Regions from separate parts of the Homo sapiens genome. Here region 2 is linked to region 1. Evidence: fine-mapped expression QTL. A gene starts in region 1. The other region holds a variant in brackets. All regions are shown on one strand. Distances are from middle to middle. Region 1 holds the start of IGSF3 (immunoglobulin superfamily member 3). Region 2 holds the start of LOC105378926 (a long non-coding RNA gene).

What was found. PIP is the estimated chance that this variant, and not a neighbour inherited with it, causes the effect. A credible set is the group of variants that fine-mapping cannot tell apart.
Region 2: its variant is the best candidate, but not a certain one, in a credible set for the expression of IGSF3 in aorta (GTEx, PIP 0.79).

The regions. Positions count from the first base shown.
Region 1 is chr1:116,665,278-116,670,649 of GRCh38, forward strand. IGSF3 (immunoglobulin superfamily member 3) reads right to left here and starts at 2,456. Exons shown (of 11, transcript NM_001007237.3): 1 at 2,341-2,456; 2 at 1,007-1,679. The coding sequence starts at 1,049. RefSeq lists a silencer at 2,301-2,690.
Region 2 is chr1:116,709,232-116,714,603 of GRCh38, forward strand. LOC105378926 (a long non-coding RNA gene) reads right to left here and starts at 1,258. Exons shown (of 3, transcript XR_947741.3): 1 at 1,186-1,258; 2 at 998-1,061. It also overlaps the pseudogene GAPDHP64. The variant C/T (reference allele first, on the strand shown) is at 2,752.

The DNA of each region.
Region 1 (5,372 bases):
CTACGTGCAAGACACCTAGATTTGGAGACGTGAACCCTGTAGGCAACAATCATAATCCCTTCTGAATGCAGAGGACCGAGCCTTACAGAGAGGGCAGGGGGTGTGCTCATGTATGAGGTCTGAGATGGGGAAAGAGAATGGCACCAAATCCTGGCAATGAAGTTTATCCTAGACCTGAGATGTGTTCTAAGACAGCACGCTGAAGACAGTGCTCAATGGCATAAAAAGAATAGGCAATTGTTGAGCAGAGGGGCCTCTTCACTGGGGTGAAGGTCCTGCATCTGCACCTTAAGAGGGGTGTCAAAGGTTCACCTCTCAGGGCCATAGTTTCTTCTTCCCACTCTAGGCATTCTGATTTGTGGGAGCACAAAAGCCAATCCTAAAATCTCCCCTACCAGGCAGCTTCCTTTTCTTCAGGCTCTCCTTCTCCCAGAACTACGATCTAAGCTTCCTTGGTGAGGAGACACAGGACTAGTGCCCTCACATTTTTAGCCTTCAGACCACTCAGGTAGGCAAAGCATCCCTTCAACCCCCATCCCACTTACTCCCATTTCCACCTCAAAAAAGGCACCATCATTATCACCCAAACCAACTTTCGAGACAGAGGGGAATGATGTTCCCACTCCCAATTAGGAATCAATGCAGCCCAACAAAGAAGTGAAAACACCAGAGCATCCATGTTTGACATGCTACAAGACAGCAGCCCACCAGCCATGTGAAGTCCCTAAACCACAGATGTGCAGATGCAGGACCTCACCCCAGGGGCCAAGACAGACACTTTAAGAACAGCAAATGTTCCTTCTTATAGATAACAAATGATATTCCACCGTTGCTCTTGGGTTAGAAACGGGCCTCTTCGTACTCTACTCCAACCTGTGACACACACCGACCGCCTCCTGGTGTCCCCCAAATCCTAGTGTTGATGAAAAAGAACCACGAGAAATTACAGGAACCAAGAGCAGGTTAAACTTTCACATCGATTGCACTGATAAGCAGAGCCACTTACCCAGCACAGCCAGACAGCTCAGCACCGGGAAAAAGCACTTCATGTCGGCAGCCTCCAGGAGACACAACACAAGGCGCTTCCTCTTCTCCCAGCTCCTAATCTCTCATTTCTGGCAATCCACTTATAGCTCCAGAGAACAGTTTTGGAAATAGAACTTAACTCGGAAAATGGGAACAGATTAAAAAGAAGAGATCAGAAGGAGGGAGTTGGGGGGAAGGGGAGGAGTGGAGGCAAGTGTGAAAACTCCCCTATGCTACAGGAAGGGTCCACAACAATTCGGAAGTCGCTCCCGGCTCCTGCCACATCGTGTGCCTTGCAGTTTCCACTGAAATTGCAGACTGTAGTGGATTAATCCTCCAGAAGCACGGAAAAAAGGGTCTGAGAAAATCCTTTCATCCACTGATTATACAGAAATGTCCTTGGCTTCTCAGTGAAGGTGTCTGTGATCTCCCTCATTCGGATTCCCCAGAGAGAACAGGGCAGGTTTCGTCAAAACCTTTGACGGCCAAATCACCCTGCCTGGCATCAACCGTTTGGGTTTCTTCACCAAAAAGTCCGTTTCCATCCATGGTGGTAGGTCACGGAGGCGCCACCTGCCCCACGCCTGCCTAGGGCACACGAAGCAAGTTGGCGTTCGGCAGCCCTGAAGCGGTACCCCAGCGCGAGCAGATTTCTAAAACAAACACAACAGAGATTTTTATCAAAGGCAAAGCTGCAAAACCCACTGGGGCTGAGCGCTGAGCTGGTCCGGACACCTGGGTCCGGTTCCTGGACCAGGACAGTCAACCTCTGCATTCTGACCTTGGGCAAGTCTCTGTCTTTCCCTCCGCCTCAGTTTCCCTGCCCAGAGCAGGGCAACAGTGGGAAGCCCGATTGTTCCTGAAATACTTCCACCAAATGCTTCACTCCTGGGAATTCCCGTCACCTCCTACCGAGCCCGGGCGCCGCAGGTAGCCCCACCCTCCGCCAGGGCAAATCGGGAAGGGGCTCCGCGGTGGGGCCGCGACTCCCGGCCCCCGCCCCAACCGTGGGAGCTCTGCGCGCGACGCGTCCCAGGTGGCCCCGCTATTGTTTTACCTTGCAGGGTGTTTATATCTCGCTGATTGGAAAGAAAAGAAACCGGGGAAGAAGGGAGTCCGGAGCTCCGCTTTCAGCTGCCGGAGCGCGCTCGCAGCGCGCCCGCCCAGCCAGGGGAGGGGTCTCGGGCCCGACCCGGAGCTCAGCCGGCGCGGGCCCGCTCCCCACTCCCCGCTCCCCGCTCCCCGCTCCACGCCTCCCCGCCTCCCTCCCCGGGGCCCCCTCCGGGCGCCGCCCGCGCCCCCGCCGAGCCTGACCTCGCCCCTGGCCCTCTCCCTCCGCGCGCGTCGGACCGTCCTTCAGTCCATCCAGGCGCACGCCTCAGGGGACGCGCCGCTTCCTCTTCTCCCGCAACGGCACCAGCAGCCGCGCTGCGGCCCCTCCCGAGTCCCCGCCCCTCCAGCTCCAGCCCGGCCCGCCGCACTCGGCGAGGCGAGCGCGGGGCCAGGGCGGCGGCCTCGAAGAGAGGCCCGGCCCCGCCCCCGGCCCCGCCCCTGGAGACGCGAGTCCCGGCCCCGGGCCTGGCGGGGGCATGAGGGTGGCCCGGGGCACCGGAGGACCTGGGCAGGGCTGGCGTGTGGGCCGAGCAGCCCGGCAAGTTAATCAGGGCTTCACACCCAGACTCCGGGGCCGCCGGCGAGATGTACAGGCCCTTCCCAAAGCCCAGCTGGCCACCCATAACCTGGGAAGCCGGCGGCACAGAAGCTCGTCCTTCCTCCTGGAAACAAAAACAAAGCCCTTTGGAGACTTGAATCTGTTCACGAAGTGGAACCCCATATTGCACTTCACTCTTGGATAGAATTTGGACTCTGGAAACAGCCTGGGTTCTAACGCCGGTTCCTCCACTTCCTCGCTGTGGCCCTTGGCAAGTTACTTAACCTCTCTGTGCCTCAATTTCCCCATCTGCTATGTGGAGGAAATAACCCTTACTTAAGAGGGTTATGGGAGAAATCTGTGACATACTTGTAAAGCATTTAGAATGGTGCCTGATACATCACAAGTGGTCAGTAAATATAAGCTATTATTATTTTATGACCAACCGCCCTGTAAAGCAAGTGCTTTTTCGTTTTCTCACTACTTACCCAACACACACAACTTGCTGGGTAGACACCGTCACGAGGCGACCAAAGCAGAATAGACCGCCCTGCCCTCATGCAACTTGCAGTCTAGTGGGGACACAGACCATAAAATAGACATGACAAGAAAAGTACAGTGTTGAGGAAGCAAATGCAGAGACCCCAACCCTGTGTTATTGGGGGAGGGGCAAGGAGGAGGGAGCTTTGGTCGGGGTAGGTCCCAGGCTTCTCAGAGGAAAGGAAAACTCGGTTGAATGCCAAAGAACAGAAGGCAGCAGCAGAGGAAGAGACAGAGGGGAGGTAAGGAATCGCAGACTGAAGAAACAGCACCTCTGCAGGCCCAGAAAGGAGCCCAGTTAGAGGACCAGGACAGTCTGCTGGGCCCAAACTTGACTGTAGGAGAGAAGTGACAAGAAATGAGCTGAGAAGAAATCGAGTGCCAGAACCTAGAGGGCATTGTATGGTGTGTTAAGGGGTTGGGACCATTGGGAAGCCACTGAAGGTGTTGAGTAAGGGACTATGGTTATCAGATATACGTTTTATTTTTCATTTTATTTTAAGAGACAGGTTCTCACTCTGTGACCCAGGCTGGAATGCAGTGGTGTAATCTTGTCTCACTGCAACCTCCACCTCCCGGGTTCAAGTGATTCTCCTGCCTCAGCCTCCTGAGTCACTGGGACTACAGGCGTGCACCACCACACCCGGATAATTTTTGTACTTTTAGTAGAGACAGTGTTTCACCATGTTGGGCAGCCTGGTGTTGAACTCCTGACCTGGTGATCTGCCCGCCTCAGCCTCCCAAAGTGCAGAGATTACAGGCATGAGCTACTGTGCCCAACCAGGAATCTTTCCTTGTGTGTTAATTATTACCTCTTTCCCAGAGACACCCGTGACTCTGGCAGCTCTCAGTTCCCATTTGCTAGACTCCTTCATTTATTTATTGAGCACCTACTACGTGTTAAGAAAAGTCTCTGCTCTCATGAAGCTTACATTCTGGTGGGAAACACAGACAATGAAACAAGTATATAATATAATGTAACGTGTTCTGAAGAAAAGTGGAGTATAGAAATGTGTGGGCGGGCACAGTGGCTCATGCCTATAATCCCAGCACCTTGGGAGGCCAAGGCAGGGGGATCACTTGATGTCAGGAGTTCGAGACCAGCCTGGCCAACATGGCGAAACCCTGTCTCTACAAAAAATACAAAAATTAGCCAGCCGTGGTGGTGCACACTTGTGGTCCCAGCTACTTGGGAGGCTGAGGCATGAGAATCGCTTGAACCTGGGAGGCAGAGGTTGCAACGAGCTGAGATCACACCACTGCAGTCCAGCCTGGGCAACAGAGCGAGAGTATCTCCAAAACAAACAAACAAACAAATAAAAAACAGAAAGGAAAAGAAATAGTGTGTATGTTTGGGGGTTCCAGTGGGAAGAAGGACTCTTTGCTAGGTGAGGTGGTCAGAAAAGACCCCTCAGAGGAAGTGACATTTGAGCGAGACCTGATTACAGGGAGTGTGTGAGCGCTGGAGATTTCTGGAGTAAGAAGATTCCAAGTGCAGGGAACAGCAAGTGCAAAGCCCCATAACATGTTCAGAAAATTAAAGGTGTGTTAGTGTGTCTGAAATGGCATAAAACAGAAGGAGAAGGAGGAATGTGATCAGAGAGGTCAAAGAGGCCAAATCTAGTAGGACCTTCTAACCTGAGGAGCTTGGCTCACTCTGGCTGCTGGGTAAGAATAGAGCATCAGATGGTAGGGGTGGACAAGGGACACTGGATGGGAGGTTCTTTCCATTGCGCAGGTGAGAGATGATCACAGCTTAAACTAGGGTGGTGCTGATGCAGGTTGTGGAAATGGGTGGAGTCTGAAAGCATTTAGAAAGCAGAGTCAATGAAATTCTCTGAAGAACTGAATATGGAGGGGGAGAGAAAGAGAAGAGTCAAGGAATCTTCCAGAAGGGGCATCTCAGCCTGCTTTGGAACTCTCTGACCCCCACCAAGGTGTACCCCCATCAAGGTGCAAGACTGTACTTTCTGAGGCCTCTGCCTAGGCCTTCATCCTTGAACCCCTATACTCAATTATCCCTTCTCTATTACTCGTTCTTTCAATCTCAACCTGCCCCTCTTCATACTACTTGGCCCCTTGCATCCTTCTGGATGATCTTTCAACCCTTGACTTCCATCACCACCCAGATGTGTTATGGCTGATTCCCAGCATG
Region 2 (5,372 bases), 44 kb after region 1:
AAATAAAAAAAAATTAGCCAGGTGTGCTGATGCATGCCTGTAGTCCCAGCTACTCAGGAGGCTGAGGCGGGAGAATCGCTTAAATTCAGGAGGAGGAGGTTGCAGTGAGCCAACATTGCACCACTGCACTCCAGCCTGGGCAACAGAGCGAGACTCTGTCTCAAAACAAAACAAAACAACACAGGCAGAACTCCTCAAATTGTACTTTACATCCTGGTTCTCAGTCAAGAAGACCCATCTTCAGACTGGAAAGGGCAGAATTAGTGCTGATTAGAGGGAAACAAAGCCACATAAAATTGCTCTGAGCAGACTTCACACACCCATTAAATACCCCACCAGAATTTAGCCCTCGCAAAGGGTTCCTCAGATATTTCTGAGATTCTCTCTGGGTGCGGAGCTGCAAATGCTTGTTCACTACCCCAAATCATCCCCTGATGCTAATGACACTCAGGATACGGACCCTTTGCAGGGCATAGCTAGCCAGCTCTGCTGCTGCCAGCACCTGGGATGAGGGATGCCGGACTTCCCTTTGCTTTCCATCCTAAGCACAGGACACAGCATTCCCTGAGTCCCCAGAGCACAATCCTCTCTCTAATACACAAGCTGCACAAGTGCAGGAATTTTTGTACCCCACCCACACCCCCACTTATGTAACCCCAAGGTCTAAAACAGGTTTGGTAGGCAGTAGGAGCTCAGTAAATCTCTGACTCTTTAACAAGTGTATAATAAACATTCAAAAGTGAAAGAAAGGGCTGGACAAGGTGGCTCATGCCTGTAATCCCAACACTTGGGAGACCAGGATGACTGGACTGCTCGAGCCTGGGAGTTCGAGACCAGCCTGGGCAACATAGCGAGATGCTGTCGCTATTTTAATTTTTAAAAAGCTAAAGAAAGAAAGAACAAGGCGGATAATAACTAACAACAATTAAAAGATGTTGTGAATTTCAGGATCCTCAGACTCAGATTTAGAAATGCCCGGTGATGAAAATGTACCCACCTTAAGCAGGCTGATGGCTTGGCATGCAGAAGATGTCTTTGTGGGCAGAAAAAGCTTCACCAGGCTGAAAAAAATAGAAAAATGTGTCCCCTCTCCCCACCTGCAAGGCAGGCAGATACATTAGAAGACAGAGATCCCACTTGGTGGGCAGGTCCTTGTCAGGTAAGGGTTCGGTTAGTAGGTGGTACCTTTGTGTCAAGAAGAAGGCGTGCCTTTCTCCCAGCAAGGGCAGCCCTTGGGTGCACAGCTTGGCCACACTCTGTTGGACAAAGCTGCACTGTCTTCCTACAGGGCTCCTATCCTGTCATGTGGCATGAGCCAGCACAACTGCACACAGTGCAAGTGCCCTCAAATCAGGTCTGCTCTGCCTAGAATCCCAGCCCCACCCCACCCAAGACCCAGAAAGGGGAAGGGATTCTCAAGCTGCCTCCCTGCACTTATTTCTGCCCAACACCTGCTCCTCCCTGGTGACCAATGATGGGACATCTATTCTCCCAGGAAACCCAGCCCTCACTCCAGGCCTATGATCTCATCCTGTGGCACCCAGTACAACAGCCCCATCAGAACACAATAGTCTCAAGGGCTTTGGGGTCATTATACTTCAATAATGCCACTTGAAGGGCAGAAACTGTCCATTGAACACACTTAGTTCTCTTTTATAGGCTGTCTTCTAGGGAGAGGTGAATATTCTGCCTGAATGTCCTTCTGTAGTCCTCTGGGCTGGCTGGTATTGCAAACAATTGCTCTGGCAAAAAACACTCTCCACTCTGCAAGGATAAGCAAACACTGTAATTCACTACATTCCTACCGAGTTAAGAAATATTTCACTCCTTCCTGGAAAGCAAGAAAATTATAGAGACTTAGCTCAGGCTTGACCATATCCAAAAACATACACAACCAAAACAAAACATTTATCATCCAAACCTAAAATCATCATCCAGAATAATGATGACTTTATAATTGTTCCAAAGAGCACACTGGGCACTTGTTCCAGGCATATGTGTGTAACAAAAATACCCATGAAGTGTGACCCAAGGGCTGACTGTTCAGATGAATTCTGTAATGGTTAATATTAGGTGTCAACTTGATGGGCTTGAGGGATGCCTAGATGGTTGGTGAAGCACTTTTTCTGGGTGTGTCTGTGAGGGTGTTTCTAGAGAAGACTGACATATGAGTAAGTGGAGTGGGAGAGGAAGACCCGCCCTCACTGTGGATGGGCACTGTCTGGTTGGCTGCCAGCACAGCAGAACAAAGCAGGCAGAAAAAAGCAGGCAGAAGAAAGCAGGCAGAAGAAAGCAGGCAGAAGGGGCATATGCAGCTTGCTGGGGCTTTCTCTTTCTCTCTCCCTTCTAGAGCAGGCCTCCTTTTCTCCTTCTGCCTTTGGGCATCTGACTCCAGGTTCTTCGGCTTTTGGACTCTGGGACTTGTACCAGTGACCTCTGGGGTGCTGTCAGCCCTTCAGTCTCAGACTGGGAGCTGCACTGTCAGCTTTCCTGGTTTTGAGGCTTAGGTCTTGGACTGAGACAAGCTACTGGTTTTTCTGATTCTCCAGCTTGCAAGCCCTATTGTGGGACTTTGCCTTTGTAATTGTGTGAGCCAATTCTCCCTAATAAACTCACATACATATATACACACACATATACAATTACTCAGGGTTCTCCAGAGGGACAGAACCAATAGGATACATGTATATATATGTGTATATATACAAATGTATATGTATCTTATATATATGTATCCTATTTGTTCTGTCC[C/T]TCTGGACAACCCTGAGTAATTCACCATCTTCTTTCTGAACAAAAAGTAATGCTGGTTTGAATGGCAGTTTCTTCCAGATTCTACCCATATGGTTCTTAAAGACAATGATAGGGTCCAGGATAAAAAAGTAGTTAAGGGAGTGTAAAAGAGCTTCATGCAATTGGAAGTGGTGTCAAGTTTCTTGGCCCAAAAACATTTTACCCTTGGGTGCTAAGAGATCTTGCAAATGCATTGCTCAGTTCTATCAATAATCTTTGTGGGACTGTAGTGAGCAAAAATGGTGCCATAGCACTGGACCCAGGCAAATGTCCTAAGTGCAAGAAATAGAAGTTGAGTTCTGGAGATTACAGAACGGCAAATGACCTAGATTCTGGTCATATTTATGAATAAATTGTTTAAAGAGAATTTATGAGCACCTACAAAAGGAAGTAGTGATTACCAGTGTAACTAAAATGCAGGTTAGTTGCTCGCTGTATGTGGAGTCCAGTTAACAAGAGCAAGGTCTGATAGAAAAAAAAGCAAATTGATTCCAAAGTTAGCTTGGGGAAGGGGCACAAAGGGTCCTGCCTTAAAATGTGCTGCTTCACTTTGGGAGCAGAAAGCAGGGATTTTTATAAGGTAAGGGAGGAAATGAGCAAGGGCAGGGGGTCTCCCTCCTAGCTTGATGATGAGTTGGCGCTTCCTGGGCAGAAGTAAGTTGAAAAAGTGGCCAAGCGGGTGTGCTTTCGATTTCCCCTCCTGGTGGATGAAAGTCCTGAGGCAACCCTGGGAAGATGGAAGTTCCGAGGCAACCTCTGGATGTGAAAATTCCTTGGTGGGTGTGCTTTGGTCTGCAAATCGACTGCCAGCTCTCAAGGAGAGATCCGTCTTGGAGCACACAGTTAGAAAAACTTGCCCTGTAGGGAAAGCCAGGTGATGGGGAGGAGAATGGTTATATTTGCATTTCTGAAGGGCTAAGGGGGCCAGGGAGATGAGAAAAGAAGAGAGAGAGAAGGAAAAAAACAATTAAATCACCTCTAGAAAAACAGGGGTGCTGGGTTACACTAGGAACTAGTATAGATTCACCCATAATGTTAAAGGCAAAGTAACCACTTTTCCTTTTTGAGAGGACTGTTAAACTCAGGAGACTGAGGTAGTGTGTGTGTCTCAAGGAAGAGAACAAGGCTTTCACTCCATTTCTGACTTTTTAAATTAGAGGTTGTACATCCATGGCTCATGGTTTCTTGTGTTTTAGTTGGCTCTGCCCAGCATTTATGATACTTTCAATTCAGTTGCTAACATTTAAAAACAAGGAGTGTGGCAAATCCTATTCTTGTCCCCAGTTATCCCTTACCCTCCCTTTGTGGCCTATGGGAGAGGCGTAGGTCCTCTCCCCACTCCCTCAGGCCTGGACAGGGGCCTTGCTTTGGCTAATAGGGTGTAAGCAGAAGTGACCTGTGCCACCTGGTGAGCAGTGGCTTGAAGAAGCACCACGTGGGTCTGCGGGCCCTCTTCTCCCTCGGCCACAAAACGGTGTGTCCAGGATGGGTCTGCTTTACAGCTGGATCCTGGAACAAGAAGACATGCAGAGCAGAGCCACAGCTGCTGACAACAGGAGCAGAAATGAACTTTTCTTTTCAATGCTATTGTAAATGGGATTTTTTTTTTTTCCTGAGCACAGGGGACTTTATTGATAGTACGTGACAAGATGGGGCTCCCTAGGCCCCTCCCTCTTCAGAGGATCTGCATGGAAATTGTGAAGAGGGGAGATTCTCAGTGCAATGGGGGACTGAGTGCAGCAGAAACTCCCCAGCAGTGAGGGCCTCTCTCTTCCTCTCATGCTGTCACTGGGGCTGGTGGTCTGGGGGTCTTACTCCTTGGAGGCCATGTGGGCCATGAAGTCCACCACCCTGTTGCTGTAGCCAAATTCATTGTCATAACAGGAAATAAGCTTGACAAAGTGGTCATTGAGGGCAATGCCAGCCCCAGTATCAAAGGTGGAGGAGTGGGTGTCACTGTTGAAGTCGGAGGAGACAGCCTGGTGCTCAGTGTAGGCCAGGATGCCCTTGAGGGGGCCCTCTGATGCTGCTTCACCACCTTCTTGATGTCATCATATGTGGCAGGTTTTTCCAGACAGCAGGTCAGGTTCCTGGCCAACACATTGTCAGTGGGGACTCAGAAGGCCATGCCAGTGAGCTTCCCATTCAGCTCAGGGATGACCTTGCCCACAGGCTTGGCAGTGCCGGTAGAGGCAAGGATGATGTTCTGGAGAGCCCTGCGGCTGTTATGACACAGTTTCCTGGAGGGGCCATCCACAGTTTTCTGGGTGGCAGTGATGGTGTGGACTGTGGTCACGAGTCCCTCCACAGTACCAAAGTTGTCATGGATGATCTTGGCCTGGGGTGCTAAGCAGTTGATGGCACAGGAAGCATTGCTGACTATCTTGGGGCTGTTGTCCTACTTCTCATGGTTCAAGCCCATCATGAACATGGGGGCATCAGCAGAGGGGGCAGAGATGATGACCCCTTTGGCTCCCCCTGCAAATGAGCCCCAGCCTTCTCCATGATGAAGATGTCAGTGGACTTCACAACATACCCAGTGCCAGCATCACCCCATTTGATTCTGGTGGAATCTAGCTCCT